7 linked regions of the Homo sapiens genome follow. The protein of the gene in region 4 purifies or fractionates together with the protein of the main gene of each other region. This does not show direct contact. Each region holds a gene or a part of one and is shown on either strand. Other genes may lie near its edges.

Region 1 (3,007 bases), on a different chromosome or scaffold from region 4:
GAAGGGTCGCCCCCGGCTGAGGAGAAGACGAAGGGTCGCCCCCGGCTGAGGAGAAGACGAAGGGTCCTCCCTGGAACCCCTGGAGGCTGAGGAGAAGATGAAGCGTTCTCCCCTGGAGCCCTGGAGGGAGAGGCTCTGCCCACACCGTGACTTTGGATTGTGGCCTCAGGAACTCAGAGAACGAGGTTGTTTCAGCCCCGCAGTCGGTGGTGATTTGTTCTGGTAGCCGCATCCTTTGGGGACATGGGGTCACCAACCTGGGTTCAGACCAGCTCCTGGGCGTCTAGAGACTAGCTGTGGGCCCCTGCACTGTGGGCAGGCTGGGGCCACAGGGCAGGACCTGCATTAATGGAAATGCAGCAGCAGGCGCTGAGGGACAGTCGCCGGGCGGAGCAAGCGTGTCTGCCGAGGCAGGGTGGCGCCCTGGGGTACGTCCAGCGAGGCCCTGAACACGGGCCGTGGGCACCGGACCTGGCGAAAGACAGACTCCGGCTTCTGGCTGGTCGGATCCTCGTCTTTATTCTCGGGAACGGAAACAACCGGCGGCCTGAAAAGGACCAAAGCTCATCCTTTAAAAATAAAATGAAAATAAAAAACGTATTATTTGGCTCCAAAACTTCCGTCATGAGAATAACAACTCTGAATGGCACCTTTTCACACATCCACTGTGCCCAACGGCCAGTGCTTCACCCAACCGCAGGCCAGATGCCGTGACTCCTAACGTCTTTAGAGAACAGTATCAGACGGCACACCAAGGCGTTTTAAGACACGGGAATTTGTTTCCTATGGACATTTCTTTTTTACCAAAAAAAAATATAATAACTTAGTTTGCATTTTACAGCATTTCCAATCGGCCAGGGCATCCTTGGCTGGAAGCTCATGGGGTTGAGTGTGGCGAGAACGTCCACAGCTTCGGTACCAGGGTCAGGCCTGGGCCCAGGGCATGCGGCTCCCAGCGCGCGGCCCTCACCGCACGGCCCCACCAGGACCGCAGCGCCCACCGCAGCCTGTGACTCATCAGGAGAGGAAGGGCAGCGGCCCACGGAGTCAGTCCGTGCCAACCTCACAAGGGTTCAGCCCCCTCTCCTGGGCATCCCTGTACATCCTCTGGAAGTCCTTGAAGCGTGGGGCACAGCCGAGCCGCGCCTCCCCGAAGTGCATGTGGCCAGTGAAGAGGAAGTCGCCATGCCCCGGCCGCACGCCACACTCCAGCAGCGTCCTGACGCGCCCCTGCCAGTGGCCGTCACCCTCGGGCACCGGCTCGAAGACCCTGCTTTTCTGCCGATAGAGTCTGCTCACGCGCAGGTGGATGGCTGAGTCCTGCCGCTCAGGCTCGTGGGTAACTTGCTGGATGGAGCCTCGAACGGCTGTGCGGGGAAGGAGATGGGGACAGGGAGTGAGCAAAGGCAAGCACACAGCAAGACCACCGCACCTCCCCCTGCCCCCGCATCGATGGGCACTGGAACGGGCAGCTGACCCCCGACTCTGCCATCTAGCGTGGAAATTCCCAGAGAAAAGTACAATGTAACAGCAGAAAGCTGCCAAGGGGTGTCCCAGATACTTAGACATCGTCAGAGAACAGGTGCCCTTTCTACCAAGGGCCAGACCTGTTAAATGGGAAAACAGAACAAACAAGTCCAGCTGATACACAGGGTGCCCCTGCAGTTCTGTGTCCTGATCAGACAGACCCGGTGCAGCTCACAGGAGAGGGTGGGCATGGGGACAGCCTTCGCGCCACACTTGGAGACCCCTGCCCAGCCCCAACTCCATGCCAGGGGCCGGGAAAGCAGTGAGAAGGGGCCTGTCCTTGAGCTTGGAGGTGGGGTGCAGAGCCGGGGCCTGCAGGACATGGCTTCCACGGCACCACACGACGGGAGGCCAAACCTTTCCCACAGGGCGTCTGTGCAAACGCCACAAGCAAAGGGGCTGGAGCCCTGGGACCCCAAAGCTCCTCCTGCAGAGCCGCAGAGCCGCCGGGGGCCTCAGGCCTGGAACAGCGTGAACTCTGGTGGGGGGCAAGGAGTGTCCAACGCCAAGGATGCTCTGGGCTGCTGATAAAATGCTGTTTACAAAGCACTTCAGCAAGAAGAGCTGCTGGGAGACAGTGGACTTCAAGAGTCCCCTCGAAGAGCAGTGATCTCATTTACAAAATGGGAAAATGTTTGACAGTCACCAAAACAACCCCCAGCTCCCTCCAAGTGTGGGCGGTGGCGTCCCTGTCCCCAGGGCTGGTGGAGGGCCGAGCCCAGGGCTTCCACAGCGTGTGCCCCTCCAGGAGGGTCCACGCAGCACCGGAAGGCTGTCCTGGGCCCTGAAGAGGGACTCCTGGGCCCAAACAGCTCCATGTGGCAGAAACCAGGAGCACAGGAGGTAGAAGCTGCCGAGGAGACACTCACCGAAGTCGCTGGTGCAGACGGCTAGGAGCACCTCGGTGTCACTGCAGGGACGGCACGGCGCTGGAGAAGAAAGGCAGAGTCAGGAAGCAGCCTGGACGGGACAGGCTCTGGAACGCCGCCCACCACCGTCAAAGGATCCTCACACTCAGCAAAGCCAAGTCAGGGAGGGTGTCCACGTCAAGGCACCTTTGTGACCAACGCCACTTCAAATGTGAGTTGGCGGCACGTGCTGGAGGGGCCGGCAGCACGGGAGACAGAAAACACAACCTCGACCACGACGGGGTCTCACCCAGGGGACCCCTCGGCCCCACCTGGACCAAAGGCACCTGCACCTCGGCCATGATGGGCACATGTCCGAGAGCAAGACCCTCAGTCCGGCCATGTCCCAGGGCCTTCGTGGGGAGGGGTCTTTGTGCTCTTTCCCCACTTATCTCCTCAGTGCGGCTGAGCCGGACTCACTGAGAAATCGCTCACGTGCCTGTTGCAAATGCAAAGCCCACTGGGGCTGAACCGAACCCACCAGACAAGAGTCACCCCCAACCCACCTCCACAGCCCACGGCGCCGGGAGCACCCCCACCTCCCAGAGTCGCCCCCAACCCACCTCCACAGC
Region 2 (2,515 bases), on a different chromosome or scaffold from region 4:
TTGTAGGCAAAGTTGTTTAAGGAGGTCCTGTCACATTCAGTGGCATCCGTTATGATAAAGCCAATAGGCTTTTACACTCATCTGTCCATTTCTGTCAAGACCCTATGGCTGAGGTCAAAACAATGTTCTGGGAGAACCAGTTACCTCTAACCTTCCAATTCAGACACTGCCAGCTTAACTATGTAGAAACTGGCACACAGACCCTGTTAAGTGCTGCAACAATGACAGCGTTTCTATGAATTTGTTGGTACATGTGGGACTTTAGCTCATCTGAGGAGTCGAACAGCAGCTGTGAAAGTCTTCTACTCACTCCCTGTCGAGGCTGGCCTGGTTTGCTACACAAACACGGTGGCCCTAGGACCATGGGGCTATTCCTGCAGACGCCCTCGGGAACCAGCTGCTCTGAACGTGGTGGGGGTGTTGGAGCAGCAGTTTCTCAAAAGTCCACACACAGTTAAAGCTCTGAAAACAGCACGACGCACAGAAATGATTTCAGATGCTTTTCAGTAGCCACTTTCATGCCAACTCTTTATTTCCATAATAGAAAATCTTTTATTTCCACCTTTAGTGTTCCCTGCTAGAATAGATGACCACAAAACCCAGGCCAGAAACGTTCTGGTCTGCCGTGAACAGTCCAGGAGGCACTTGTTCTGCTGCTGTGGAAGTCGCCCTGACTCGGGGAGGAAGGGACACGCAGGTGGTATCAGTCTTGCTCAAGTAAACAGGCTGTTTTCCAAACATTGTGACTTGGCTACTGAGTGGGGATACCTGGTTTCATTGGCAATCTTCCAGTATCTCTCTCGCAAAAGGAACGCTGCACTTTTTGGTTGTCTCTGCCGAGTGAAGATCCCCTTTTTATTCCCCAGCACTCTCGTCGGTGCTACAAAAAAAAAAAAAAGACACAAAGCGATTCAGATGTCTTCTGATGGGTCAAGTTAGAACCAGTCTGGAGCTAAGGTAGGCACTAAATAGAAATGTCTTTTTTTTTCTTTTTTCTCCCTGTTGCCCAGGCTGGAATGCGGTGACACAATCATAGCTCACTGCAGCCTCAACCTCCTGGGCTCAGGCAATCCTCCTGCCTCAGCCTCTCCAGCACCACCATGCCCGGTAATCTTTTATTTTTATTTTTTAGTAAAGACAAGGTCTCATTATGTTGTCCAGGCTGGTCTCAAACTACTGGGCTCAAGCAATCTGCCCTCCTTAGCCTCCCTAAAGTGCTGGGATTATAAGCACAAGCCACCATGCTCAGCCAAATGTCCTCTTACAGTTTCAGGATGCTTGCTCTGAAGTGACAATTTATGGGTTGAAATATTTAAATACCACTGCTCTGCCCAAACACCCAGGTTCCCTGGTGTGTTAATTTCTAGTTTTCTAGTCTGTTAGGGGAAAAAAACCCAAAACAGTGGCCAGGTGTGGTGGCCAACGCCTGTAATCCCAGTGCTTTGGGAGGCTGAGGCAGGTGGATCACCTGAGGTCAGGAGTTCAAGATCAGCCTGGCCAACATGAGGAAACCCGCCTCTATTAAAAATACAAAAACTGGCTGGGCACATTGGCTCATGCCTGTAATCCCAGCACTCTGGGAGGACAAAGCAGGCGGATCACAAGGTCAGGAGATTAAGACCAGCCTGGACAATATGGTGAAACCTCATCTCTACTAAAAATACAAAAATTATACAGGCATGGTGGTGGGTGCCTGTGGTCCCAGCTACTCAGGAGGCTGGGGCAGGAGAATCGCTTGAACCCAGGACGCAGAGGTTGCAGTGAGCTGAGATTGTGCCACTGCACTCCAGCCTGGGCGACAGAGTGAGACTCCATCTCCAAAAAAAAAAAAAGCACTAAAAGTTTATCTTTTATTTGCAAACTAAGGTTTACATGCTGGGTACCCAGCTGTCTGGTAACTGGGTAGGCAGAGGGCTAGGGGTATCTGGGACAGTTACCCTTGAAAAGCCTTGGGCCTTTCTGAAGAGATAGCGCCTAGTGGGAGCCAGGGTCCTGACCAGCCACAGGTCCCTGCGTGGGACCTACTCATGGAGTTCAAAGTCCGCCGGGGCTGACGTCCAGCTTGGCAGCACCCACCACTGGTGGTCATTAGGCCTGAGCTGAGCCTGGTGGAGGAGCACAGCTGGCAACGACCTGTCAGGGCTGTGCTCTCAGGACATTCTCTGTCCCCAGTAAGACCACCACTAAATGGAAATGTTAAATGGAAAGGGGGCTTTCCCCACCAAAAGGTTCAAGACTGTTTCTTCCATAAGTGAACACAGGCATCGCCAAGTACTTCATCAAATGCAGCCCTTACGACACCAACAAGGAGGTGGCATTATCCCCACTGGACAGGCTTATGAAAAGCTTAGGTGACTTGCCCAACGTGATGCAGCTCATTTCTTTTTTCTTTTTAAGACCGAGTTTCAGCTGGCCATGGTGGCTCATGCCTGTAATCCCAGCACTTTGGGAGGCCCAGATGTGCGGATCACCTGAGGTCGGTAGTTCAAGCCCAGCCTGACCAACATGGAGAAAC
Region 3 (4,232 bases), on a different chromosome or scaffold from region 4:
ACTCTTTCCAGATTGCCTTTCCATCCCTCTTCCCACCCAAGACCCAGTCACTCTTCCATCTCTCCCTGCCTTAGCACTTGGGAATGGCACATACGTGCCCTGTCAGCCCCATCGAGCCCAGGGCCCCCCTGAGACCTGAAGCAGTCCCCTTGGCTCTTTCTGCTGCTTGCTAATCTCCTTAACCAGGTTCTTTTGGTCTATTAGACCATGTAGCAGATGGACCCTTTTGAGGACATATAGAATCATCTAAGAATGTTCACGAATCTAGAAAACACTTATAGGACCCCAAAAAACCTGAGTCACAGAGGACAGCAACTCCAGCTGACTTCCAGCCCTCATTTCCCCTTTAACCAAGTGGGTCTCCCGAAGGCCCCGGGGATTATTGTGTAAGGACATCCTGGCTTATTTCACCCACACTGCCAGTCCTGCTTCCCCCATGCACAGCTTACCACCCAGATAGGCGCAGTTAAAATGGCTACAGGTCTGATTATAGCTCCAGAGAGTCACCAAGCTCTGGGCTCCATCCTGAGAGAATCTGGTAACCAAAAAGACTTCATGGGGGGGAATCAGCACCTCGCGCTCCTTGGGAAAGACAGAGAAGGCCTGTATAGGGGCCCCAAAGCAAGTTGTTAGAGAGAAGAGGGTGGCATTACCAAATCTGTGGGCCACTGCCTTATCCAGGGAGCTGGAGGCAAACTGGCCCAAGCGGACAGAGTCTCCCAGCCTCTTGGGTTCAAAGCGAAGGCTGCCCACACCTCGGAACACCACCTCCCCAGGTCCCCTGCTGCAGCCCCCACTGCCTCGCAGCAGCTGCAGGGCCCGGATCAGGTAGAAATGCAGGGCCTTGAAGGGAAAGTGCCTCATGTAGAGCTCCCGGGAGCCTCCGCCCGTCCGCACGGCCTGATTCAACTCCCAGTACAAGGTGTTCGATGAGTTGGTGTAGACCATAATGGCTATTCCATTCTGGGCTTTGAAGCCAGGGGGCAAGGTAAGCCCTCGACGCTTGTCCTCCCAGGTCTCCTGGGCTGCCTCCCAGGATTCCCGCAGCAGGGCATGGTGGGCCATTTCCTCCTTTAGCAGGGGGGCTGCCTTCTCCTCCATCTCCTCTGCACAACCCACATAGGTATCGTCAAAGGTGTCTGGAGCCAGGCCCAGGGGCAGGATGGGAACAGCCTGGGCCTGTGGAGCAAAAGAGGTGCCACACCGAAAAGAGCATAAGTTCAGAGCACTGGACATGGGTCCTGGGGGCAAACCCATCCAGAAACACAGAATCTCATTTCTATCCCTAAATATCAGGTATATGCAATTTGGCAAGGGCCCAATAAGAGGCTTAAATAACACAGGCACTGGAGTCAGTCAGACATGGACTGAAATCTTTTTTTTTTTTTTTTTTTTTTGATGGAGTCTTGCTCTGTTGCCCAGGCTGGAGTGCAGTGGTGAGATCTCGGCTCACTGCAAGCGCCACCTCCCAGGTTGGAGTGATTCTCCCACCTCAGCCTCCCAACTAACTGGGATTACCTGTGCATGCCACCATGCCTGGCTAATTTGTTTTTGTGTTTGTTTCTTTGAGACGAAGTCTCGCTCTGTTGCCCAGGCCGGAGTACAATGGCACGATCTTGGCTCACTGCAACCTCTGCCTCCCGGGTTCAAGCAATTCTCCTCTCTCAGCCTCCCAAGTAGCTAGGATTACAGGTGCGCAATACCACGCCCAGCTAATTTTTTGTATTTTTAGTAGAGACAGGGTTTCACCATGTTGGTCAGGCTGGTCTCGAACTCCTGACCTCAAGTGATCCACCAGCCTCAGCCTCCCAAAGTGCTGGGATTACAGGAGTGAGCCACCGCGCGCAGGCTGAAATCTTGACTTTACCACCTATTAGCTGTGAGGCCTTGGGCAAGTGTCATAACTTTTCTGGACTTGAGGATACTTCCAACCTCACAGTTATTATGAAGACAGCATAAAGAGCATTACTTCTGTACAACCTAAAAGGGGTCATCCTGTCATTAGAAAGGTTCTTGCAGTCGGTGGGAGGTGGGACTAGATGACTATCAAGCACTTTTCCGGCTGTAAGATCTGGCAGGCAGGTGATGTGCAAATATTACACACAGCCAGTGTCCAGCTGCCTAACCCCCAGCCCCATTCTCCTCGGGCTCTCTTTCCCTCTCATCCAGCAGGAAGCCCTTGCAGGTAGGTGCTCAGCCACCACACCAAATCACTGTGAGCTCTGAGACGCCTGAGTCCTCCCCTGCTCTGTACCCACATTTGGGGTAGGGGTGGTGGGGAGGCCAAGCCTTGGTTGGGACGGGCTGCCAGGACTGCAGCACACAGGTAACCCAAGGAGGCTTTGCCGGGCTGTGCCTGCGCTGGGAGATGAGAGGTGGGGAGGAGAACGTTGGAGGCATCCAGAGAGGGATGGAGATGGGGGTTCTAGGAGACAGAATGGGAACTTGGGGCTCCCTGCAGAGATGGAGGTTCCTGAGAGGAAGAGAGTTAAGAGTGGAATCCTAGGGAAGAGTCCCTGGGAGAGGGATGTGAGGAGTCAGCCCCGGGTCCACTTCCTCAGGGTCTGTCCCTTAATGTCCCCCTTGGGGCTAGGAGATGGTTCCTGGAGTTACCTGCCAGGTGTGGAGGCCGAGGCTGCCGAGGGCGATCATCAAAGCCGCCAGCGCCATCCCTGGAGGAGACGTGAGGGCCAGGGGTCCGGGTGAGGGCGGGACCAGAGGTGCTGGAGTCCTGGTTTCGAGGGGCTGGAGGCAGATCTGGACCCTGTCTCCAGGCGCACGGGATCCCGGGTCCAGGATTAGGGCCCCGGCGGGGCGTGGGCGGGGCCTGGGAGTTTATTGCCCGCCCCCCGCCCCAAGTCTCCGCCCCCGACTCCCCACACCCCTTCCTCAGAGCCTCCAGTCTGGGGACCTTTCCGAGACTGTAAAGGCGGGGCCGCAGTTTGGCTCCGCCTGAGAGGGGAGGGCCGGGGGCGGAGGACCCACTTGAAGGCTGCGGAAGCCGCCAGCGGGAGGGAGCGCCGAGGGCTCTGGCGGGCGCTGCGCTGTCCCCGGAGGAGTCCGGAGTCCGGCTGAAAGCAAAGGTTCTCGAGGCTAACTGTAGCCCCCGCGCTGGTAACCCGACACCCCTTTCCCAGCGCCGCACGCGGGGCCGGGAGCGGGCGCGCCAGGGCAGGGACTGAGGAGCAATTCCCTTTCTCAAGGCCTGCGGGGTCTTTCTGCGGGACCCTCTTTGGCTGTGAGTGATGGGGAGGAAACTTGTGAGACTCGGCCTCTCCCTCAGGCGGGCCCTGACCCGGTCGGCCCCTGGTCCCCGGCCCACCAGGCCAGGGGCCCCGCGGGGGTCCCGCCGGCCGAGAGGTCGCCCCCGGAGCACTGCGATTTGCATACAGTTTGCATTTGGCCCACACCCTGGGCCACGTGCTCCAGCATCTGAGCAGCGCCCACTCCCTGCCTGCTCTGGGCCCTCTCCCCATTCGCCTTCAGTGGGGTTGGGCCAGAGACAGAGCCCTTGGTCGCAGATCCACAGGGTCCGGTCTCGCCCCTCCCCCAGACCGCTCTCGTGGCCGCTCAGACTCAGGTGACCCATGTTTGTAAACACTGGCCTTTCCCCCACCTCCTCTGGGCTTATCTATAAATAACCTGGCTCTGAGTTTTGGATGCCCCGTCAGAGGTCATGGGAGAAGGGGCCAGCGGAGGAATTGGTAACTCAGGGAAGAGCTTCCTAGCAGCCAGAGCCAGGAGGAGGTGGGGTTGTCACCCCTCCTTCCCCCAGCGGCCGGAGGGTCGCCGAAAGCTAGGATTTGAGAAATGCTGCCTGCTGGGGCTGAGGTGGGCACGAAAGATTAGAGCTACCCAAAGGAATCCATCCTGGTCTGGCTCATTAATTTTCCCCATCCCTGTCCCCCCATCCCCTCAGAGTGTCAGCCAAATAAAAAGTTTCCTCCACCTAGAATCCTGCTATCTCCCAGAATCCTTTCTGTAGACCAAACGGGAAGACATACGGTGGGTCCAGGCTTGGAGGAGGGTGGGGAGGGAGGTGCTTCTGAGTGCTTGTTAGAAAAACAGCTCCAGGGCAGGGCGCAGTGGCTCCCGCCTGTAATCCCAGCACTTTGGGAGGCTGAAGTGGGAGGATCACGAGGTCAGGAGTTCGGGACCAGCCTGGCCAACAAAGATTAGCCGGGCGTGGTGGCAGGGGCCTGTAATCCCAGCTACTTGGGTGGCTGAGGCAG
Region 4 (2,401 bases):
GAGGTTGTGGTGAGCCAAGATCGCGCCATTGCACTCCAGCCTGAGCAACAAGAGCAAAACTCTGTCTCAAAAAAAAAAGATATCTGGGAAGCTGGCCTCTGCCGCAGCACCCGCCTGCAGCAGAGCGCTGCTCATGCACCTAGAGCGCCCTTCCCTGGGCTGAGCCTGCCTTGTCCTTTCAGATCCAGCCCAGGCGTCACATCCTCCCTGAAGCTGTGCCCACCCCCACATCCCAGGGCTCTGCCAGGTCCCCCACGTTTGTCTTCTCACTGCTGTCACTGCTGCTCAGTGAAGCCTATCTGATTGTAGCAGTCTCCTCAGCAGACTGAATGCCACAAACAGCGTAGCTTTCATTCATCTCTGTGGTCCTGTGCCTGGGGCTCACTGAATGATTGATTGTCACATCCCTGGCGAGGCTCAAAGTAAATTCCAGTGTTTGTCTGCTTTTGCAATAGGAACAAGAAATTGAAAGACTTAACAAACTATTGCGACAGCATGGACTTCTTGGTGAAGTGAACTAGACCCGGACCAGCTCCCCTCAAAAAGAAGACACTGTCTCATGGGCCTGTGCTGTCACGAGAGGAACAGCTGCCCCTCCTGGGCCGCTTGGTGAGAGGTTTGGTTTGATACCTCTGCCTCCCTCCTGCCAGCATGGATTCTGGGTGGACACAGCCTTGTGGAAGGTCCAGTACCACCAAGAGCTGCCCATCCACTCCCACCCCACACTGTATCAAATGTATCACATTTTCTCATGTTGAACACTTTAGCCTTAATTGAAAATGAGCAACAAAGCTGGACAATTGCTAGTTGTATATAAAATTTAATCTCACCGAATGTACAGTTTTCAAATTTCACGTGTATATTAAGGAACTGATGCATCTGAGCATTCTGAAAGAAAGAAAAAGAAGCTACTTTAGCTGCCACCCCATTCTAGAAAAGTCTCTTATTTTCAAGCTGTTCTAAATAGCTTCGTCTCAGTTTCCCCAAAAGGGGTACCCAGGCCCCTCCTCTGTGTGCCCCAGCTGCATCAGCCAGCTTCTAGGTGGCTCCATTGTTTTCTGCCACCTGACAACATTTTTCCTCAATTACTGTACAACTACTGTATAAAATAAAACAACTACTGTATAAAATAAACTCTCTCTTTTCCCTGGACCCTCCTACTGTATTCTTTCCTCTGTGGCACCCATACCAGCCTGCCAGTCGGAGAGCAAGCTAGCTACAGTGCCTGGTGCAGAAATGGCAATTAGACCCAAGACTCCACTATAATTAACAAGGTATTTGGGGGAAGATCCCCTTGTAAGGGCTGTGTGCTCTTCTCGCATGATTTTATCTAATATTTTGCTATTTTTTTGTACTCATTTCAACCGGACCCAAAAAGGAAAAAACCTGAACTGAGTATTTTTAAAATAAATAACTCAAAGCAGGGGATGAATGAACTGGCCAAATCCCCCTTGCCTCTGCTGCTTCAAGTCCTGTTCATGTTCTTTACCATCTCCCCAAAGACTTTTTGGGTTCTATCATCTATGACCTATGTGTTAAGCATATTCCCCATTCAAAAGTCAGATAGAATAACATTTCCAAAAGGAAAAAAGGCAGGAAGGGAGTGGAGAAGGGCAGTGTGCTGGTTTGGAGGCAACCTCAAAGGTTAGAAGTATAATAAGGCTAGGCATGGTGGCTCACACCTGTAATCCCAGCACTTTCAGAGGCCGAGGCAGGAGGAGCACCTGAGCCCAGGAGTTTGAGACCAGCCTGGTCAACACAGCAAGACCCCATCTCTACAAACTATATTAAAATTAGCCAGGTGTTGTGGTGTGCACCTGTAGTCCCAGCTATTAGGAGGCTGAGGTGGGTGGATTGCTTGAGCCCAGGAGGTCAAGGCTGCAGTGAGCCATGATCACACCACTGCACTCCAGCCTGGGCAACAAAGCGAGACCCTCAAAAAGTATAAAATGCAGTATCCCCTAGGGACTTCTAGCCCCACGTGCACACTTTCCAAAGGGGATGACCTCAGAGGAGGGGCGTAGTTTCCTCACTTACGTCAAACAAACGGGAAGAAGAAGTTAAAGGGCAGCCTGGCATTGATGGCTGGTGGAGCTCTGAAGCCTGCCTCTGCAGGTGCAGACACATCCACAAAAGTAACCGCAGTGGAAATAAGAATCGTCCTTTCATTTCCTGAGTTGGCCTGTAATAAACAGAGAGATGCAAGGCCCACCCTCCAGTGTGCTCCCAGAATGACAACAATGAGACACTTTTCATTCTCTTCCTCACCCAACTACTGTCAGTTCATGAATCTGATAGGTCCTGGAGCACTAATTGGCCATTAACTTGGATGAGAGAAACAATTTTACCAGGGTGTCTGATTAACACGTGAATATCATAATTTTCATGAGAATTTTAAAGA
Region 5 (3,674 bases), on a different chromosome or scaffold from region 4:
GGTTTTCCCCTGTCATCTATATTCTTCTCACTCTTCCCAGTTGAGGGTGCTGGGTGCTGGAGGGACCGCAGGGGGAAGTGGCTCTCTTGCTGTTTCTGTTCTGGACGGGGATGGTCAGCATGGGTGATGGTACTTTCAGTGCACATGATTTTTCTACAGCCTGGCTGCGCTGGGGATAACATTTCCATAGTCTTCTTTATTTTTTTCTGAGACAGGGTCTTGCTCTATTACCCCGGTTGGAGTTAGTGGCATGATCATGGCTCACTGAAGCCTCGACCTCCTGGGCTCAAGTGAGCCTCCCACCTCAGCCCCCAGAGTAGCTGGGACCACTGGTGCACACCACCACGCTCGTCTAAAGAATAGTTTTTGTAGAGATGGGGTCTCACTATATTGCCGAGGCTGGTCTGGAACACCTGGGCTCAAGCGATCCTTCTGCCTAGGGCTCCCAGCGTGTTGGAATTTCAGGCATGAACCACCACGCCTGGCCTCCGTAGTCTTCCTTTTTTTTTTTTTTTTGAGACGGAGTCTCACTCTTGTCACCCAGGCTGGAGTGCAGAGGCGGAGGTCTCCTCCGCCTCCCAGGTTCAAGTGATTGATTCTCCTGCCTCAGCCTCCCGAGTAGCTGGGACTACAGGCGCACACCACCACACCCGGTTAACTTTGTATTTTTAGTAGAGATGGGGTTTCACCATGTTGGCCAGCCTGGTCTTGAACTACTGACCACCAGTGATCCGGTTGCTTTGGCCTCCCAAAGTGCTGGGATTAAGGCATGAACCACTGCCCAGCCTCCATAGTCTTCTTGACACAGAAACCAAGCCTCATGCAGCCCACATGCTCTAAAGGGCTCCTGCCTCACTCCTTGTGCCTCAACCTCCCACTGCACATCCATGCCTCTGGTGGCTGCTCACCTGACCCCACCTCACAGGGGTGGCCTATTGCTTGGTCAGCAACTCCAGCCCAGCTCCTGCCTGGCCAAACCAGAGACTGTCTTTGCTGTCTGGTGGCCAAACTGCACGTTGTCCAGAGGTCTGACTCCTTCCAAGCTGGTCCTTTCTGGGTACTTTCCTTCAGCCCTAGAGTACCAAATAATTTCCTACATCTTACAGTTTACTCTTTAAAACGGTTTAGGCCGGGCACATTGGCTCACGCCTGTAATCCTGGCACTTTGGGAGGCCGGGGCAGGCAGATCACCTGAGGTCAGGAGTTCCAGATCAGCCTGGCCAACATGGTGAATCCCCGTCTCTACTAAAAATACAAAAATTAGCTGACGCAGTGGTGCATCTCTAGTAGCAGCTACTCGGGAGGCAGAGGCTGGAGAATTGCTTGAACCCAGGAGGTGCAGGTCGCAGTGAGCTGAGATCTTGACACTGCACTCCAGCCTGGGCGACAGAGTGAGACTCTGTCTCGGGAAAAAAAAAAAAAAGTTTTAAAATTGAGATATAATTCACAGACCATAAAATTCATCTTCCAAAGTTTTTAATTCATTGGTTTCTAGTATATTCACAAAGTTGTGCAACCATCATTCCACAATTTCATCATCTTCCAAAGAAAGCCCGTCCCTGTTAGCTGTCATGCCTCTTCTCTCTTCCTCCAGTACCTGGCAACCACCAATGTGCTTTGTCTCTGATACACAGATTTGCCTATTCTGGACATTTCACATAAACTCGTGATTGGCTTCTTTCACTTAGCGTAATATTTGTAGGATTCACTCAGGCTGTGGCATGCGTCAGAATTTCCTTCCTTTTTATGGCCAAATAATATTCCATTGTATGGACAGAACACACTTCATGTCTTAATTCATCTGTGGATGGACATTTGGGTTGTTGCTACCGTTTGACTTTTGAGTAATGCTGCTATGAACGCGGGAGCACAGGTATTGTGTGGATGGATGTTTTCAATTCTCTTGGGCATAGACCTGGGAAGGTTATACTTTTATTGATATTAATAGTTCTGATATTGGACATCCCTGCTGTGTGGTTTCACCTCTCATGGACTCTGACGGCTGCTGTGCCTTCTCTGCTCGGCAGGCGGTGCCCTGAGGCACAGGTGGGCGTCTGGGGCTGGAACTCTCGCTAGGCGCTACAACTTCCTCTCCTGCCCTGTGGCAGAGCCAAGCCCCTTGCAGGGCTGTTGCCAGCATGGGATGAGTCTATGAAAACACGTGGCACGCAGTAGGTCCACAGTTACCACTGGCAGCCTGGCAAGCCTGGCAGGGCCCGGACGGCAGATGCGCTTCGGTGCTGCTGTGAGTCTTGTGCTCTGCCTTAGGCAGAAAGTCCTGGGTTTGTGTTTTGTGAATGAATGACGCATGAGTGTGCCAAATATCCTTTACGTGACAGAAGAGGAGAGGGCTGGCTTGATTGAGTGTGGGGGGGAAGAACCTGGATCTTGTAATGTAATTTTTGTTTAAAAAAATTAGGGAAAAACCCCAAATATGACCATTTCCTGCCATTAGCCTGCAGATGAGCAGCTGACTCCCCAGTCCCATCCCTCCGCACTGCTTTTCCCTGTCCTGGGTCTGTTCTGTTACATGGAGTTCCTGGGGGAAGCCCTGGGGCCGGGGCATCTGCCCAGGGCTCACTGCTGTTGAAAGTGAATAAAGAACGTCCGGATTTCCTTTGGGTGGACGGTGATGATGGGGCCTCCTGGTGGCCTCGAGGGAGAGGTGGTGTCACCTAGGGGAACAGAGGTGATCTGTCCAGTGTGGCCTGGGATGCCTCCTCCCAGCCTCCCTCTCACCCCCTGCACCTGTCTACAGTCTGCTGTGGCTCCCAGCCTCCCTCTCACCCTCCTGCACCTGTCTACAATCTGCTGTGGCTCCCAGCCTCCTTCTCACCACACTGCACCTGGCTACAGTCTGCTGTGGCTCCCACCGTGGCAACGGCCTATGGCATCCCCTTCTGCCAGGACTCCTGTGGGCCTCTTGGCGTTTCTGCCCACCCTGAGGGCAATTCATAGGTTGGTCCTGGCCCTAGTGGCCTCAATTCCTCATGGGTGTTGCCCTCAAAGCCCAAGAGCTTTCTGAGACCATCTGGTGAGTCTGCCCTTGCCTCACCAGGCTCCCCTGAAGGCATGCCCTGGGGTTGGGCTTCGATCTTGGGAGGGAGCCGTCCACTTATCTATCACTCATCCATCTTCCTTCCTTCTTTCCAACCAACATCATCTTCCCTCCCTCCCTCCCTCCGTCCCTTCCTTCCTCCCACCACCAACTGAGCGTGCACCATGCACCCGCCACCATGCTGTGTGTAGTGGACAACGAGCTGCACAGGACAGAAGAAACCCCTGGGGCCAGGAGAGTGGAGGAGGCACTTGGCCTGGTTGGTGACTCTGGGGAGGCATCCTGGGGAGCTTGAGCAGGTGCTGGCCAGAGTGAATGGGACCTGTGCGTCCCAGGCAGAGGGCATGGTGCGGACAGGGAGTGGAGCCTGGAAGCTGCCTGTAGTGCAGGAGCTCACGGTGGCACATGTCGTATGAGGCAGGGACCGGCTGATGGGCTGAGGTCAGCAGGGCCAAGGTGGGCAGAAGCCCCTGGGCCCCTAGCTGTCACCCAGGGCACAGGCAGGGCGTGTGGTCTGCGTGTGCACACGTACAAGTGCACACACACGCCTGTGTGGAGCCCTGGCAGGCAGAGACTAACCCAAAGCCTTTCTTAACCGACTGTAGTAGATTTGGGA
Region 6 (4,183 bases), on a different chromosome or scaffold from region 4:
AGCGAGGAGGCGGAACCCCCCACGGCCTGGCACTGACGGGATGCCGGCCTCACCTTCAGCTTCTTGGCCTTGCCCCTGCTCCTCTTCTTGCCATTGACACCCTTGTCACTCTGCCTGACGAAGAGCATCCAGGCGTCCCGGGGGTCGACGCTGTGTGCACGCTCAGCGGTGGGCTCCTGGAACACAGCCAGCCCAGCAGGGCGGTTGGCCTCACTGGGCTCCTACCAAGCAGGTGGGACACTTTGCAGGAGGTGACTGTGTGGCCTTCTGTACTCTGGGACCCTGGTCCTTGTCACCTGTGGTGCCCTCAAAGGCAGCTCCCAAAGGGGCCCCAACCCCTCACAGCTTCTCCCCCGGCCCGTGGAGGATGACTCCTAGGGAACGGGCCACACCTCGGCCTGGACTTGGCACTCATGGGAGAGGCAGACCCAAGATGCCTGGAGGGAAAATGGGGTGCAGGGCTTGGATATCGGGGTGAATCCCCGTACTGCTGGGCCTCCTTCCTCCAGAGGAGCTGCAGTGATCACACCGTCCTCCAGTCACCAGGAGGATCCGACCACTGGAGCACCCATAGGTGCTCAGGAAGAAGCAACTGTGATTATCAGGGAGCCCAACTACTAGCCAACCCTCCTCTGTCCATCCTCCCCCAGTGTCAGAAGTTCTAAGGAGGCAAATTCAGCTCTCACAGCTGCCTCGGGTTACAGTCCAGTGGGGGAGAGGACCAGGCGAGCTGTCATGACGCGAGGCCTCTGTGTGAGACTTTCATTTCCTCAGCACTTCTGAGACACTGACACATGGACAGTGATGCTTCCGGAAGTTCCCATTCCTGTCCGCGCTGCATCCTGACTGATGCTGACACTGAGCACAGTTTTGGGAGGGACCTTCCTGGGAGAGGCCTTGGGCTATCTGGGCTCCAGGCAAGGCTGCCAGCTGGGAAGGAAACCGGCCCAAGAGGGCTTAGATGAGGTCATGGGTGCTGACGCTGGGGGCTGACGGAAGGACCCTGGGATTTTAGAGCTGACTGGGCCCTTTTATCAGAGACAAAGCCGGCTGCCAAGTCACTGCCTTTGGTTCCTGGCTGATCTGGGGGGATGCAGGGCCTTCTTTTGGGAGCTGGCTGACCAATGCGCAGGCCAGGGTGTTGTGGTGGGAAGATGGGGGCTGCGGTGCCGAGGAGCCTGTGGTTGGGCGGAGAAAGGGTTCAGGGGCCCAGGGCCCTCAGCGCTGCTCAGTGCTTCCTTGTGCCTTAGAGGGTCAACTGCACCACCTGCTGGCTGATCTCCCCTCTACCCCCTCCCAGGACCCTCTTCCACTTCCTGTGTGCCCTCCGTGGAAACATGGGGCGAGGATGCCGCACACCGGCCAGGAGGGGTGTGCCCAGCTGACCCTCCCAGCTGCACCTGTGGCCTGTGGCCGGACCCTGACCCCAGTGTGGTTTGCAGGTAGAGCTGTAACAGGCAGAAGGTGGCGTCCCAGGAGACGGCCCCAGCAATGGGGGTGGGTATTGGGCAGCTGCCCTGGTTCCAGCCACAAGGGGTCTCTCAGAAACAAGCCTTGGAGCCTGGGAGGACCTCTGGTGTCACTGTGTCCCCCACAAACAGGGTCCAAGGCCAAAACTCCACCTGGAAGCCCCTGAGCCCCGTCTGCCTCCTGCTGACAGTGCCCTGACATTTGGCTGCTGTGCCCACCTGGGTGGTTTGGCCAACTGCACGGGGAGGGGGTGCCTTCAGTCCCTGGGAAGTGGCTGGGTGTGATGGGGCCGGGATAGAGAACTCTGGGGGACCCCAGGCCTGGCTGCACCCCTGTCCTCTCTAGTAGATGCGTTCCTGGCTCTCCCCTCTACTGCCCCTGAGCATCTTCAGAATAAACAGCACCGGCCGCCCACCCCGGCTTCCCTGGGGCAGCCCTGTCTCCCTGACCCAAGGCCCGGCCACACTGAGGGCTCCTCTGAAGTTCTCCCCTCCTCAGGCCTGGGCCACACCTCCCCAACCGGACCACCCTCTGCTCAGCAGTCCAGGCTCCAAAACCCTGGAGAGGAGGGGGCAGGGCAGAGCTCAAGATCACCCACTCACGGCCAAAAGCCACCTGATCACTTGACTCAAAGCCACATGTCATTCCCCACCCTGCACAGCCCCCCGACCCCAGATCCGCAGGAAAACACTTTTTGTTTTCCAGATAATTGCACCAAATAGATTGGGGGCGGTGGCAGTAATTCGCTTACACTTTTTACAAATGCGTTCTTCCCAATTTCCTCAAATCAAGTTATTTACACTTTATCTATTTCCCAACTTCCTTCTGTCCCAAAAGAAAAGGGGGGTTTCGCCGACCTAGTAGAACCTTGCTTTAAGTCAAACTACCCCAAAGCCAAAGTCAAGGCTGCCCCGCCGGGCTGAGGGCGGCGTCTACACGGCCCTGAGTCTCTGCGGAGCCCCGGAGCCCCGGTGCCAGGCGATGCAGCAGCCCTCGGGGGTGAGGGCGGGCTCGGCCTCCACGTCCGCCTCCCGCCGCCCCGAGCCGGGGCGTGCGGGCGCGGGCTGGGTCTGGAGCGGGCCCGGGCGTCTTACCGGCGGACGAGCGGCCGGCCCCGCGCGGCTCTCCCCGGGGCCCCGGGGCAGCTCGTTCCCGGGCGGCGGCTCCCTGCGGGCGCGGCTCCTCGAGGGCGCCCCAGGCTCCGGGGACCCCAGGCCCGCGGCGGCGGCGGCCAGCAGGCCCGCGTAGACGAGCAGCAGGCGGGCTCCGGCGGGGCGGCGGGCCGGGGCCATGCGGGCGGCGGTTCCCTCGCGGCTCCGAGCGCGGCGTCTCGGACGCCCCGGGCTCCTCGCCTTATAACGCGCTTGAATCCCCCGCCTCGCCCGAGACCGCGCGCCCGCCCGCGCCCCCTCCCGGCTCCCGTGCGCGCTGCATGGGGATGGGGGGAGTGTCCGGGCGGGGGAGGGGGAGTGGGGGAGGGGGCACGGGGAGCGGGGCAGGGCAGGGAGAGCGAGGGGTGTTCCCCTGCTGGGCGCGTCCCCCCTGCAACTCCTGGTTCTGGGATCCCTCCTTCGCGCTGTCCAGCGCTTCTGCTTCCTGGGGAGCGAGGCGCCCCTTCTCCCAGCCCTGGACCCTCGGCCCTCGCGACCCCATTTTCTTTGCGGGGAGCCAGGCGCTGCCTCCTCCCAGACGGCTCGAGGCATCCTTTCTCCCCGCTCTGTCCCCCACGTCCTCTGCAGGGACCCCCGAGGTACCCCCTCCCCATTCTCCTGGCTGCGCCCCGCAAGGCCCAGGCCTCTATGACACAGGTGGAGCAAATCTGAGCCGGGAGACCCTCAGGGCCCCTTCTCAGCGCCCCTTTCCCAGGCGGGAACTCCCCTTTCCAGGCCGCCCTCCGTCCATGGCTGGCGTGCTCTGAGCGCAGGGATTCACTGTTCTTCCCCACCTGTCGCACCTGCCGGGACCCAGAAGACGCAGGGAGCCAAGAAACAACTCAGGACAGCCGCCCTGCCCTGGTGGGGCTGAGCGGGGCCTGGGCTGGGAGAACTGACCCCTATCGTGCCCTAGCGGGGGTGTGGGGGCAGACCAGACCGGAAGCCAGGCTGCCCACCGCCCACCGGAATCAGTGCCCCCAGAGGTGGACCAGACCCTGCAGGCCTCGGAGAAGGTGGCAGAGAGGCCTCTGGGCGGCCCTACCAGGAAAGAGCCAGCCCCAGCCCCACCCTACCCCTGGCTTTGTTATATCGCATGCCCTTTTGACTATCTGCCCCACCACTGGACGCTAAGCCGAGGAGGGTCGCACACTTGGCTCGCTTGCCCCACCCCCGAGGCACCTGCCCCTGGTGGGTACACAGTGCTTTTTGTTAAAGAACGGGAGAAGGCTCCGCTGGAAAAGTACCTTACACTCACACCGAGGGCTGCTGTTCCCGGGGAACTCTTTTGAGAAGAGCCCGCTGGGGAAAGGAGGCCTTACCCTGTCCTGGTTCACAGGATGTGGCAGCAGGGACTGAAAGGGGCACCAGCAGCCGCAGGTGGTGCCCCCCAGGCTTGGGGATGGGCCAAGTTCCGTCCTCAGATGCAAGCTGGCCTTTGTCGCCTGCCTTTTCTGGCCACTCATGCGATGTTCCACCTGGCTGGCCTCATGCCTGGCAGGTGGGGAAACCAGGAAATACTTCATACTTTAGGAAAAGCATGGGATCAGAAGGTAATTATT
Region 7 (3,500 bases), on a different chromosome or scaffold from region 4:
TGTCTCCGGGCCCTACTTCCCCACTCTCCTGGGCCTCAGCCTGCAGGTGCTGGAGCCACCCCAGCATGGAGCCCTGCAGAAGGAGGACGGACCTCAAGCCAGGACCCTCAGCGCCTTCTCCTGGAGAATGGTATGGCTGTGAGAGAGGCCCAGGGGCTGCAGCCCAGCTCTGGGGGCAGAGTGGAGGGAGCCCTGGGGACTCCCAGTCTGGGGGTTATACACAGAGAGGAGACGGGGAGTCACATTTCAGAAGCACCTATGCTTTAAATACCATATATCTTTTCTTCCTCACAACTCCTCGGAGCCAGAACTTATGGTCCCCATTTTCTACCAATGGAAAATGAAGCCCTAAAAGAGTCAGTCTCCTCCTGCACCCAAAGGCAGGGCATGAAGGGTGCTGCTGGGGCCTGACTGCCAGCCCTGGGCCTGCCCCTAGGTGGAAGAGCAGCTGATCCGCTACGTGCATGACGGGAGCGAGACACTGACAGACAGTTTTGTCCTGATGGCTAATGCCTCCGAGATGGATCGCCAGAGCCATCCTGTGGCCTTCACTGTCACTGTCCTGCCTGTCAATGACCAACCCCCCATCCTCACTACAAACACAGGCCTGCAGGTGAGAGCATCCCTGGGAACACCCCCATGTCTGCTTCGAGAAAGAGGCCAGCGTCCCCTACTTCGCGGCTCAGAGCTCCCCCAGCTCTGATCCTCAGTTTCCTCCTCTGCAAAATGGGGACGCTGCCACATGCCTCACGGGGTTGTTGGAAGGAGAGAAGTGAGATTGTGCTGAAATAGAACACAGGTGGGAAGTTTTTTTATTGGATGTTTGCAAGTATGGTAGGCAGACTTCTGAGCGGCCACGGGTGGCTCTGCTGTTCCTTCTTCTGTGGCTAAGGACCAGAACATCTGACAGAATCACTTACAAGCCCTTAAGGGCAGGCATCAGGGCGGAAGCTGTTAAGTTTCCCACCTTCACCCAGCAAGTGAAGGCCATGGCTTGGCTCCCCAAACTCCTGCACAAGGCTGTTCCACGCCCAGCAGGACAGTGCAGGGAAGGCCCTGGTGAACTTCGCTCAGGCAGAGGTAAGGGCCCCACTCTGCAGGTGGAAGTTGAGGCCCAGACGTGGGATGGAACTTCTCCATGGTTGCAAAAGTAGTTCTGGTGGAACAGAAAGGGCATGGCTTTACAAAGCCCACATGGCAGGGCTTTGAACCCCAGCTTCTGGGGTGCATCCTCCCCGGTCAGCAGGAGCCACTGAAGTTTCCATAAAGGGCTGACTTGGGCTGTCTCTGGCATGGGGTGCCTGGGGCGGGGGTGGGGGCGGGGCCTTGGTGGTCTAGGATGTGCCCGTAGCGGGTGGCCTGGTGGTGCGGAAGCCGCCAAAGAGTGGGACACAGTGCTCTGGAACCACAGGCCAGGACGGCTGTGTGGCAGCACAGCCACCAGGTGGTGCCATCTACCTGTGTTTGCTCCAGAAGCCTAGTGCTGGGGTCCTGCCCCGCAACATTATGGCCCCTCCTGCCAGGGCTGGGCCTGAGGGCTCCCTGGGGCCGGGGGAGGAAGCCCAGGAATGCCAGAAGGCTCTGTTTTCCGGGCATGTGAGTCCCACTGCAGCTCTGCCCGCAAGTAATTGACCCAGCAAGACTGGTACCAGGACCTCAGGAACAGGCACCTGCTCTGCTTGCAAGTGGGAGGCCTGAAAAAGGGGTCCCCTTTGCCCAACATAAGGAGGGCCCCTAACTGCTCTGGAAGCACCTGGGCCCATCCCACGCTGATTCTGTGCTGCAGAACAGTGCCAACCATCAGCCCCCCACTCTCTGCGCCACGCACCCCTCCCTCAGCTGGAAGGAGGGCCCATTTCTAAAATCACCATTCCCACCTGTGCCCGGCCCCGGCCAGGCACACACGGAGGCTCTGAAAGGAGACCCCTGTCCCACCAGTGAGACAGATTAGGGAGCACTGTTGGTCAGCGCTGGGGGTTTCTGGGAGTGAGAACTTGGTGAGGGTAAGAGCTGGGGCCTTCCTGGGTAGGGGACATAAGCTGGCCTTGAGGGACACACAGGACTAGGGCAGATGGAGAGCAGGGAGGCTGGGCCTGGAGGGTGACCTTCCCTGGGGCCTTCCCTGGGGTGACAGGGAAGGTGAATGCGGGAGGCCCTTTGTGCAGGGGAGCCAGAGTGGCGCCAGCCTCGATGCCACCCGAGGGGCTGAGCCGCAGCAGGACTGGAGCCCTGGTGGCAGCCCAGGGCCGGGGAGGAAGGGGTGGGTGAGTGCGGCAAGGCAGAACCTTCACAGGCCTGTGTTCCCAGATGTGGGAGGGGGCCACTGCGCCCATCCCTGCGGAGGCTCTGAGGAGCACGGACGGCGACTCTGGGTCTGAGGATCTGGTCTACACCATCGAGCAGCCCAGCAACGGGCGGGTAGTGCTGCGGGGGGCGCCGGGCACTGAGGTGCGCAGCTTCACGCAGGCCCAGCTGGACGGCGGGCTCGTGCTGTTCTCACACAGAGGTGGGTGCTGAGGGCCGGGCCTCGGGTTCCTGCTGCCCACGGGGGTGCCCTGAGATGGGGAGCCGGCTCGGGCCAGCTGGACCCAATGCCCCTGTCCCCAGGAACCCTGGATGGAGGCTTCCGCTTCCGCCTCTCTGACGGCGAGCACACTTCCCCCGGACACTTCTTCCGAGTGACGGCCCAGAAGCAAGTGCTCCTCTCGCTGAAGGGCAGCCAGACACTGACTGTCTGCCCAGGTGGGTGTGCTGATCATGGGCATTCCTGGGTGCCAGGAGCTGGGGCGGAGCTGAGGGTGGCATGCCAGGGTCACGCTGCCTCTTTGCAAACACAGGCCTGGACCTGGCTCCCAGTCAAAATCTGATATCCCCTTTTGCCTCTGGCAGGGTCCGTCCAGCCACTCAGCAGTCAGACCCTCAGGGCCAGCTCCAGCGCAGGCACTGACCCCCAGCTCCTGCTCTACCGTGTGGTGCGGGGCCCCCAGCTAGGCCGGCTGTTCCACGCCCAGCAGGACAGCACAGGGGAGGCCCTGGTGAACTTCACTCAGGCAGAGGTAAGGGCCCAACTTTGCAGCCACCACTCAGATGCCCCCAGCCTCAGGTGGCCGCTGTGCCATGGACATCATGTGGACATGGATGCCAGCTCCAGCATCACTGGCAGCAGACGTTCCCGGGCCTGCCATTGTCCAGGCGCTAGTGTCCTGTCCTCCAGGAGCCGCCAGGCTGGCAGGGCAAGTTCATGTTCCCAGAAGGAGGGAGAAGGATGCAGAAAGTCGGGGATACAGGGCCCTAGAGCAGGGCTGGGGTCTTGGGGTATAGCTTCCAGAAGGAAGCTACAGCCGGACCCGAGGGTCTGGAGAGGGGGCACCATGTGGGGGCACTAGTGGTACCCCAGTAGCTGATGAGGGGCAGTGCTTGGTGGGGGATGGAGTTGGACGTGAAGCAGCGGCTGGGCCTGTGGGCAGAGGTGTGAGCCTGGGGCTCAGGTCAAGTGCCAG

What was found.
Region 1: the proteins of TCTN1 (region 4) and METRNL purify together in Homo sapiens (affinity purification with mass spectrometry; one large-scale study listed by BioGRID and IntAct). This does not show direct contact.
Region 2: the proteins of TCTN1 (region 4) and GUSB purify together in Homo sapiens (affinity purification with mass spectrometry; one large-scale study listed by BioGRID and IntAct). This does not show direct contact.
Region 3: the proteins of TCTN1 (region 4) and ART5 purify together in Homo sapiens (affinity purification with mass spectrometry; one large-scale study listed by BioGRID and IntAct). This does not show direct contact.
Region 5: the proteins of TCTN1 (region 4) and MAN2B2 purify together in Homo sapiens (affinity purification with mass spectrometry; one large-scale study listed by BioGRID and IntAct). This does not show direct contact.
Region 6: the proteins of TCTN1 (region 4) and ERFE purify together in Homo sapiens (affinity purification with mass spectrometry; one large-scale study listed by BioGRID and IntAct). This does not show direct contact.
Region 7: the proteins of TCTN1 (region 4) and CSPG4 purify together in Homo sapiens (affinity purification with mass spectrometry; one large-scale study listed by BioGRID and IntAct). This does not show direct contact.

What each region holds. Positions count from the first base shown.
Region 1 is NC_000017.11:83,092,616-83,095,622, reverse strand, and holds the end of METRNL (meteorin-like protein isoform 1 precursor), read right to left. Parts: intron 2,457-3,007; coding exon 2,397-2,456; intron 1,368-2,396; coding exon 1,048-1,367; 3' UTR 501-1,047; downstream 1-500. UniProt on the Homo sapiens protein: Hormone induced following exercise or cold exposure that promotes energy expenditure. Induced either in the skeletal muscle after exercise or in adipose tissue following cold exposure and is present in the circulation.
Region 2 is NC_000007.14:65,960,184-65,962,698, forward strand, and holds the end of GUSB (beta-glucuronidase isoform 1 precursor), read right to left. Parts: intron 881-2,515; coding exon 714-880; 3' UTR 501-713; downstream 1-500. UniProt on the Homo sapiens protein: Plays an important role in the degradation of dermatan and keratan sulfates.
Region 3 is NC_000011.10:3,639,193-3,643,424, forward strand, and holds the start of ART5 (ecto-ADP-ribosyltransferase 5 isoform a precursor), read right to left. Parts: upstream 2,801-4,232; 5' UTR 2,671-2,800; coding exon 2,614-2,670; intron 1,180-2,613; coding exon 450-1,179; intron 1-449.
Region 4 is NC_000012.12:110,647,530-110,649,930, reverse strand, and holds the end of TCTN1 (tectonic-1 isoform 1 precursor), read right to left. Parts: intron 2,183-2,401; coding exon 2,039-2,182; 3' UTR 2,038-2,038; intron 1,246-2,037; exon of another isoform or gene 889-1,245; 3' UTR 522-888; downstream 1-521. Other genes in the region: HVCN1 (voltage-gated hydrogen channel 1), read left to right, coding at 456-521. UniProt on the Homo sapiens protein: Component of the tectonic-like complex, a complex localized at the transition zone of primary cilia and acting as a barrier that prevents diffusion of transmembrane proteins between the cilia and plasma membranes.
Region 5 is NC_000004.12:6,620,189-6,623,862, reverse strand, and holds the end of MAN2B2 (epididymis-specific alpha-mannosidase isoform 1 precursor), read right to left. Parts: intron 2,676-3,674; coding exon 2,578-2,675; 3' UTR 501-2,577; downstream 1-500.
Region 6 is NC_000002.12:238,157,587-238,161,769, reverse strand, and holds the start of ERFE (erythroferrone precursor), read right to left. Parts: upstream 2,801-4,183; 5' UTR 2,763-2,800; coding exon 2,565-2,762; intron 177-2,564; coding exon 54-176; intron 1-53. UniProt on the Homo sapiens protein: Iron-regulatory hormone that acts as an erythroid regulator after hemorrhage: produced by erythroblasts following blood loss and mediates suppression of hepcidin (HAMP) expression in the liver, thereby promoting increased iron absorption and mobilization from stores.
Region 7 is NC_000015.10:75,681,849-75,685,348, reverse strand, and holds part of CSPG4 (chondroitin sulfate proteoglycan 4 precursor), read left to right. Parts: coding exon 1-130; intron 131-436; coding exon 437-613; intron 614-2,307; coding exon 2,308-2,506; intron 2,507-2,607; coding exon 2,608-2,742; intron 2,743-2,889; coding exon 2,890-3,056; intron 3,057-3,500. UniProt on the Homo sapiens protein: Proteoglycan playing a role in cell proliferation and migration which stimulates endothelial cells motility during microvascular morphogenesis. May also inhibit neurite outgrowth and growth cone collapse during axon regeneration.